Linked DNA regions of Homo sapiens: region 1 is linked to region 2. The links come from fine-mapping of genetic effects on gene expression. Tissue or cell type: whole blood. Region 2 holds a variant in brackets; the other region holds the start of a gene. All regions are shown on one strand. Distances are between the middles of the regions.

The links. PIP is the estimated chance that this variant, and not a neighbour inherited with it, causes the effect.
Region 1: it holds the start of PAX8, and the variant in region 2 is fine-mapped to the expression of PAX8 in whole blood (INTERVAL, PIP 0.98).

Annotation. Positions count from the first base shown.
Region 1 is chr2:113,276,324-113,280,495 of GRCh38, reverse strand. PAX8 (paired box 8) reads left to right here and starts at 1,575. Exons shown (of 12, transcript NM_003466.4): 1 at 1,575-1,665; 2 at 2,027-2,126. The coding sequence starts at 2,102. RefSeq lists a promoter at 973-2,102.
Region 2 is chr2:113,232,419-113,236,590 of GRCh38, reverse strand. PAX8 (paired box 8) reads left to right here. Exons shown (of 12, transcript NM_003466.4): 9 at 1,009-1,197. PAX8-AS1 (PAX8 antisense RNA 1) reads right to left here and starts at 322. Exons shown (of 6, transcript NR_015377.2): 1 at 1-322. RefSeq lists a silencer at 906-985 and an enhancer at 1,236-1,425. The variant T/C (reference allele first, on the strand shown) is at 2,198.

The DNA.
Region 1 (4,172 bases), 44 kb before region 2:
ACTGCCAGAGAAGTTAGGGATCTGGAGCTTTGAAAACCACAGAGATATTTAAAATTACAATTTTAGAGAAAGATTTAAAATGATGAAGCACCAACTATTTTTGTTTACAGCCCCTCTTTGCAAATGTGGAGGAAACATGTAGGGATACACATCTTCTTCTCTCTTTTTTCACAAGATGATTCATTTCTCCTAAATTGAGAAATGAGAAAGACTGGGTGGAAGGAGGTTGTGGATTGACATGAAAGAGAAAACTTTTTTAATTCAGAAAAATAGTTCATGTGTTTTCACACACGTGTACATATGTGCATACACACACACACACACACACACACACACACATCCAATCCCCCTGAATATCCCAGTTTCCCCTGCACCTTCCTTGCCCCCCTCCCACTGGCTTCTTAGCCTCCTGTCCCAGAACAACCCCACCAGGCCTGCAGAGCCATCACTGAAAAGGGCATGGCTGTCCTCTAGACTGTAATCCTGAGTCCAGAGGTCTGGCCAAAGATTGGAGGAGCATCCAGGCCTTGACCCCCAGGCCTGCCAGTGTTCCAGGACATTTGCTCACTCATACCCACTCACAATCTTACGTGTACCCCGGTTCCCCGACTGAGAGAACTATGAGGAAGGAGGGGGCAGCTTTTGCCATCACTAAGGTAAAGAGGTGCCAGGCAGCTCTGCTCGGTCCCAGGGCTCACCAACCCTGCCATCATTCCCACCAGTGGACCCCTTCTTAACCACACCCAGGCCCCCATATTGCTGAGGCTATTGATTCCTACAGACCAGGCCAGAGGTCAGCTCAGTCCTGTTCCTTTCTAAGGCCTTTCCACACAGAGATGAAGTCTAGGCCCTCAATGCCCTTCCCCTGAACTCTTCTTCCAAGTTCAAAATCCTCAAGGAGCAAGAAAGAGGGCAGGTGGCTGCGTGTGTGTTCCAGAGGAGAGAGGCGAGGAGTTGCTGTGGAATGGGTTATGTGACAATTTTGTTAGCCTGACAATGCAAGGGTGTGAACGCTATCTGTGTAGAACAGAGGGAATGGCTTCAGGTGCTGCTCAGGATTCTTCCCTGGAAGAGGTCATAGCTGTGGTGAGAAGGTAATAGCATCTTGCCTACAGCCCCGAAAGCAGGCTCTACCTAAAGAATCAGGCATAAAACAGAAGTTCCCTCCTTCCTTTTACAAAAGAAAAGGCTGCTTCCTGGTGAGCAAACCAGGGGAGACAGGGGGCAAGGAGGGCATCCTACAGAGACCATCCCTCTCACTTCTGGTGGTCAGTGACCCAGGAGGACCCAGAGAACCTCATCCTCAGGCTCCTAGGCCTCTGTTCCCCACTCCTCCAATATTTCCAGGCCTGCTGAGTTAGGGCTCAGCTGCCTCCCTCTTCCCTCCGCTGGAAACAGAAGCTCCCAGCGAATGTTTCTAACTCCTGAGTCCACTCAGCCATGTCCCCCTTGCAAAATCCTCCCCTTCCCGCACCCCCCTGCACCCAGCCAGCCAATCCGCGGCCTACGAGCCTCGCCAGACCCATCTCCCAGGGCCTCAGCGGGATAAAACCGGTCGGTGATGCCGGGTGGATGGGAACAAACTTCAGAAGGAGGAGAGACACCGGGCCCAGGGCACCCTCGCGGGCGGACCCAAGCAGTGAGGGCCTGCAGCCGGCCGGCCAGGTATGTCACCCAGGGGTTAGCTGGAAGCTGGCTAGCAGTGAGGACGGGGGATGGAAGAAAGGAGAGGGTCCCAGGATGCCTGGCAGCCTTTTCCCTCCCAAGTTAAACGGGATAAGACTGGGACAGCGGAGGGAGTGGGCACGGAGGTTGGAGTCTGGAGCTTCTTCAGCGCACTCCCAATCCTTGATCCTCCCGGGAAGCCTGTTAGCTAGGCTAGGCTGAGGTTGGCCCTACTTCGCCTAAAAATCCTCCTACTCCTGGCAGACGATGCAGGTGTAAAGGATGAGGCCTGGGGAGGGGGCCTGAGGATGCAGGCATCGAATCTCATCGCATCTCATGCCCTTCTCCTGGGTTTGTGCAGGGCAGCGGCAGGCGCGGCCCGGACCTACGGGAGGAAGCCCCGAGCCCTCGGCGGGCTGCGAGCGACTCCCCGGCGATGCCTCACAACTCCATCAGATCTGGTAAGAACGCGGTGTGGTCAGGATCCCCGAGCCCCCGCGCCGCTGAGCGTCCGTGCGTGCGCTCGGGTGGTTGGATCTCGAGAGCGTCAGCACGGGATTCGCGGGACCCACCCGCGTGGGGACCCAGCTGGGGCGCCTGGGGCCTGGCCCTCCGCTGGAGCCGCCTCGCTGTTCTCGGGCACTGGGGTTCCACCCGGCCAGCTGAGCCGCCCTTGCCCGGTTTCGAGGGACCACATGGATCGGTGAGGGGATCTCTGTGGAGTTAGAGGGGGTTTCCTTTGAGCTCCATTCCCAGCCTTGCATGGCGCATTAGTGTGGACATTCTTCGTGCTCTGTCCCTGGGCTGCACCGGTGCTGGACTTGCCGTTTCCCCGTCCCCGACCTCTAAGTCCTCTTCCTCGGGTGCGCGCAGTCCTTCCCAGTGACTCCCCTGGCTGGACTGTGAGCTCCCCGCATCTCTCAAGCCAACGGCAATGGAGCCGGTGGTCCCGGGCCCGGGAGCCGGCAGCGCACTCAGGTGCTCTCCGACTCCTCCTGGCCCAGCACCGGGCAGGCCGGGCGCCGCGCGCGGGGCGTCCGGCTGGTGAGGACTAAGCCGCTCGCGGAGTCAAAACCCCCTCCCCACCTGCGCCCGGAAGCAGGGCCTTCAAACACACTCGAGCTCCCAGGCCGCGATGCCTGTTTTCCCCCTTCCCGGCCAGGGCTGGGCAGGGTCTTTGCTGGGAAGGAGCTCCAGGGTCAGGGCTGGTGGGCGCAGCCGTCCCGGCGCGCAGCGAGTGCGGACAGCGGTGGAGGCGCAGCGCGGCCCGCAGTGATGGATGGAGCCCGGCCGGCCGCAGAGAAGGCGATTTATGGGGCCAGGGCGCATCGCTATCGATTTGGGCCGGCGAAGTGAGAGGAAATCAATATTTCAGAATGAATTCTCCGCGAATATGATGTCCCGCTCTGCAAACGGGACATTTGTTATAATAAGGAGGGTCGGATCGGGCGCGCAGCGAGGCTGAGATCTCTATTTAGCCAAGCGCACTGCGGGGGCCCGGGCTCTGCGGCGCAGTCTCCAGTCCCAGGGCCATGGCCCAACTAGGAGGGGAGCGGGAACCCCCTGGGGCGCCGGAAGATTTCTCACTCGGGTTCTCTCTAGAGCTGCAGACGAATGCTCCCTCCCGGCCCCCATTCCCCTCAGAGACCTGGGCCAGAATCGTCCGGCTGCCCCCAGAAGGCGCGGGGTCCCTTCAAGGTCCTCAGGGGAGAGACCTCGCAGCCATTCCCCGGCGCGGCGGGGTTGGGGAGCCCTGGGACCGAGCAGAGCTCCCTGGCACCTCTTTACGGTCCGCGTCCTGGAACCACGAGCGCTCCTAGGCCACTATCTAAGGTCAGGATCAGGTTTTAGTCCCTTAATCTTTAGCCAAACCGTGGTACGATACCAGACATCGCCAGGACCATCCCTGAGGCCTAATGTGCAGTGCCCGGTGCCCATGCCAAGCTGGTGCAATGGCACTTCTGCGCCAAGCTGGTGCAATGGCACTTCTGCTCGGCTCTGGAGGTCCATCTTTCCTCCTAACCTTCCCCTGACCCTTCCGGCGGTGGCAGGAGGAGTGAGTGCTCTCGGAAATCAAATTCACTGTGGCCGGGCTGGACCCTTACTCTCTGCCGCTGCCCAAGAAATGAGACGATGTCCCCGTCCCTCAGATGAGCTTTTTTTTTTTTTCGCGGCTACTTATTTTCATTCTAGAAGTACTCGTTAGAATAGATGGAAATAGAGTATGGAAAGAATAAATAAAGGCACAATTTATTTTTACTGTAGTTTTAATCAGGAACAGTCCCAGATGATGAGATGCGCGCTTTCCCACTAGCTTGGATGCAAATCGCGCTTGGGTTTTGGGAGGGAGCCCTCTGCCCCTGGACCTACCAGGTAATTTTTTTCCCCTTTCTTCTTTTCGGGAAGACAGAGGGGCTTCTTCTACCCTCTTTCCAAAACAAATAGACAAAGTGGCGAGGGAGGGAAGATGAGACTTTCTTCTCATAGTTTAATTTAAACGCTAATAA
Region 2 (4,172 bases):
CGGAGCCTCCCTGGCAGGTGGAGGGCGGGGGACTGAAGAGCTTGGCTGGCTGTCAGGCGGAAGGTGTGGGGCCCTGGCCTGGAGAGGAGAGGCGGGCTGTGCCGGCCGGGCCGCCAGGTGGGCCCAGGGGTCGCGCCTCCGGTCCTAGGCCGGGCCTCAAGGTGGGCCGAGGGGTCGCGCCTCCAGTCCTAGGCCGGGCCTCAAGGTGGGCCCAGGGGTCGCGCCTCCGGTCCTAGGCCGGGCCTCAAGGTGGGCCGAGGGGTCGCGCCTCCAGTCCTAGGCCGGGCCTCAAGGTGGGCCGAGGGGTCGCGCCTCCGGTCCTAGGCCGGGCCTCAAGCTGGGCCGAGGGGTCGCGCCTCCGGCCCTAGGCGGCTCCCGTAAGGTGGGCCGAGGGGTCGCGCCTCCAGTCCTAGGCCGGGCCTCAAGGTGGGCCCAGGGGTCGCGCCTCCGGTCCTAGGCCGGGCCTCAAGGTGGGCCGAGGGGTCGCGCCTCCGGTCCTAGGCGGCTCCCGCAAGGTGGGCCGAGGGGTCGCGCCTCCGGTCCTAGGCCGGGCCTCAAGCTGGGCCGAGGGGTCGCGCCTCCGGTCCTAGGCGGCTCCCGCAAGGTGGGCCGAGGGGTCGCGCCTCCAGTCCTAGGCCGGGCCTCAAGGTGGGCCCAGGGGTCGCGCCTCCGGTCCTAGGCCGGGCCTCAAGGTGGGCCGAGGGGTCGCGCCTCCGGTCCTAGGCCGCTCCCGGGTCTCCGCGCTCCCTCCTGTGGGAGAGGCGGGCGCACACACGCCTTCCGGGTCTCTCCATTTTCGCTGCAGAAGCGCAGCAGGGAGGTCTAGCTTCTCTCTCCCCGCCTTGCCACGCCTCGTGGGCCCCGGCTCTCCCCAGCCCAGACTCTGAGGGCAGCTGAGCCTGCCCCGCGCCCCGCCCGCACCCTCCACATCCCACGGCTTGGCTTGTGCGTGTTCCCTCCCCGCCATCTCACACCCCTCTCTCCTTGTTGTCTCCCTCCCTCCGGCAGATCCTCACTCACCCTTCGCCATAAAGCAGGAAACCCCCGAGGTGTCCAGTTCTAGCTCCACCCCTTCCTCTTTATCTAGCTCCGCCTTTTTGGATCTGCAGCAAGTCGGCTCCGGGGTCCCGCCCTTCAATGCCTTTCCCCATGCTGCCTCCGTGTACGGGCAGTTCACGGGCCAGGCCCTCCTCTCAGGTACGACAGGGAGGTCCCGGGGCCATGCAGCTATGGCGGCGGGTGGGACGGGGGTCCTCAGGGCAGACCGCCAGCCCCCTCTCTGGCCTCAGTCTCATCCACCCCCACCCTGTTCCCTAATTCCTCCGGCAACTTTTGGAGGCGCCAACATGAAGTTCTCTGTGACGGGGAAGACATGCTCGGAAGGGGCGGATGCTGTAGGGGTGCCGGGGATGCACCACCCCAAGACCCCATGGAAAAGCAGGAACCCTAAGGCCGGGAGCCGGGTGCTGTAACGTAGCAACTTGGCCTTGGTAAATGCATAAATAGATAGAAGGAAAAATGAACATTTTGGAGGGAAAAAGGAATTGGCTTTTGGAGCCCATTTCTGGATCAAATTTCTAAAAAGGCCAAGGGTCAGTCCCAGTTGTGTTTCCATGATGCAGCTATCTTCATTCCTAGCTTAACAGCATCACCGGGAGGACAGTCAGACATCTGTTAAACATGATAAATTCAGTGATTCAACAACTTGAGAGGAGTGGGGGACCTCCCATCAGGAACCTCAACTGCCTCAAAATATTTAAAGCTGGAAGCACCGACCGGGCGAGGTGGCTCACCCCTGTAATTCCAGCAGTTTGGGAGGCCGAGGCAGGTGGATCACAAGGTCAAGAGTTCAAGACCAGCCTGGCCAAGATGATGAAACCCCATCTCTACTAAAATTCAAAAAATTAGGGGGTGTGGTGGCAGACACCTGTAATCCCAGCTACTGGGGAGGCCGAGGCAGGAGAATCGCTTGAACCCAGGAGGCATAGGTTGCAGTGAGCTGAGGTGGCGCCATGGCACTCCAGCCTGGGTGACAGAGCAAGACTCCATCTCAAAAAAGAAAAAAACAAATAAATAAAAATAAGTAAATCTGGAAGCACCTGAGGGAGCCTCTAGATCAAACCTCTTATGCTGATGAGGAACCTGGCCCAGGGAGGAGAAGGTCCCTGCCAAGGTCTCTGGGCAGGAGCACCATCTG[T/C]AGCTGGTTGAGGCCTGGGCCTGCACTGCATGAGTCAGACCTCAAGGGGAGCTGGCTCCTCCTGGCAGAAGGACCTTCGCTCATCCAGCCAGGGCCTGAGGAATGGCTGAGAGTCAAGCGCTTGGCTTGGGTTGGAGAGGGCCTGAGATGCAGTGAAAGTGGGAAGCAGAGACCCATATGGTCTTCAGATACCTCAAGGGCTTCCACAGGGATAGGACTATTTTAGATGTGGGCCCAGTGGGGGCCCAGGACCAGGGAAGGAAGCCAGCTAGCTCTCAGTTCAGCATTGGAGGAATCTCTTTAATAGCGGCACTGTCTCCAAGGAGTGTGGGTATTTAGTGACAGAAGTAAATGCCTCTTCACCTCCCACACCCTCCTACCCCGACGACCTTGAAATGCTGGAGCAGAGACCAGTGCGTGGGTGGGGTGTGTGAGACCTGTCACAGAGGCAGCCCAGAGTCAGACAGTCCATCTGGACCAGTGGTTTCAAATTTGGGCCTCTCAATGCTCTCTTGAAATGAAGCCTTTTACAGAAGACATGTATGCTCACCAGACCCCTGAAGAACTGCTCTTTTAGAAGGGGTCCCTGCCCCTAGAAAGCCCTTGGACTTCGAAACCACTGCACCAGAGGATTAAGACCTCTACAAGCCCAGAGTAACCACAGGGTCATGTGATAAAAGTCCCTGGACCCTTTTTTTTTTGTTTTTTTGTTTTTTGAGATGGAATCTCACTCTGTTGCCCAGGTTGGAGTGCAGTGGCGCGATCTCAGCTCACTGCAACCTCCACCTCCTGGGTTCAAGTGATTCTCCTGCCTCAGCCTCCCGAGTAGCTAGAACTACAAATGGGCGCCACTACACCCGGCTAATTTTTGTATTTTCAGTAGAGATGGGGTTTCACCATGTTAGCCAGAATGGTCTCAATCTCCTGACCTTGGTCCGCCCACCTTGGCCTCCCAAAGTGCTGGGGTTACAGGTGTGAGCCACTGCACCCAGCCCATGGACCCTTTTTTATAACTGGCTCTACATTTTCTTTCTGGCTGGCACCCGGGTTTTTTTTTTTTTTTCCTCCGTACATCCCAGCACCTAATGTGAGAAGTTTCCTTAGAAGAGAGGGACATCCAGTGTGTGGGCAGAGAGATGGTGTTTAAGGGTCTAAAGCGAGGAGTTGACTTGGAGTTCAAGAATTCAAGAGGGTGAAGGCAGCAGAGATGGGTCATTTGTTTTGACCAAAGTGATGAAAAGAGCAAAACCTGTGAGCTGAGTAAAATTATGTCAGCCAGAGAAAATGGGATGCGGGGTAGGGAGGGGAATGAGAGGATAGTGGAGAGGAAGGGAGGGGAAGGGAAGGGAGGGGAGGGGAGGGGAGGGGAGGGGGTGAGGAGAAGAGGTTCATGTCAGTTACAGGGAGTTACGCAAGCCTGCATGTCTTCTGAGAATGGCAGGCTAGAGCTGGCGGCGGTCATGGGGCAGGCAAGGGGTGAGGGTGTGGTGGTGCCCATGATGATGGGGAGCAGGTGCTGTGGAAGCCGCGGAGAAGCTTGGCAAGACCAGCTGAAGGAGAGGGAAGGATGTAGGGCAGCTGGAAGTGGATAGATGTATCAGAGTGCAGACATAGGCTGTAGTGTAAAGTGCAACTGGAACAGCCCAGGGCAAACTCCCTACTCCCAAAGCCCCTACACTTTGTCCCCTCCCTGTCATCCTGTTAGCATCCCCTGTCAACATGCAGTCAATCAGAGGTGACGCCTCCAACTACTGTCAGCTGTTAATTTAGTGGACATGCCCACTCTCCAGGCCAACTGCAGGACTGAGAGGTCACCCAACCCATGGGACAAAACAGCTGGCAGCAGACACCAGGTAGTCATGTAGGAAGCAGGCAGCCAAATATGCAGCACCGGCATATCTTTCAGGCTGGTGGCCCCCAATCCAGGCCCAGATGATGCTGAAGTGCAGGTGTGAGCACTTTGAAGGTTGCTGGC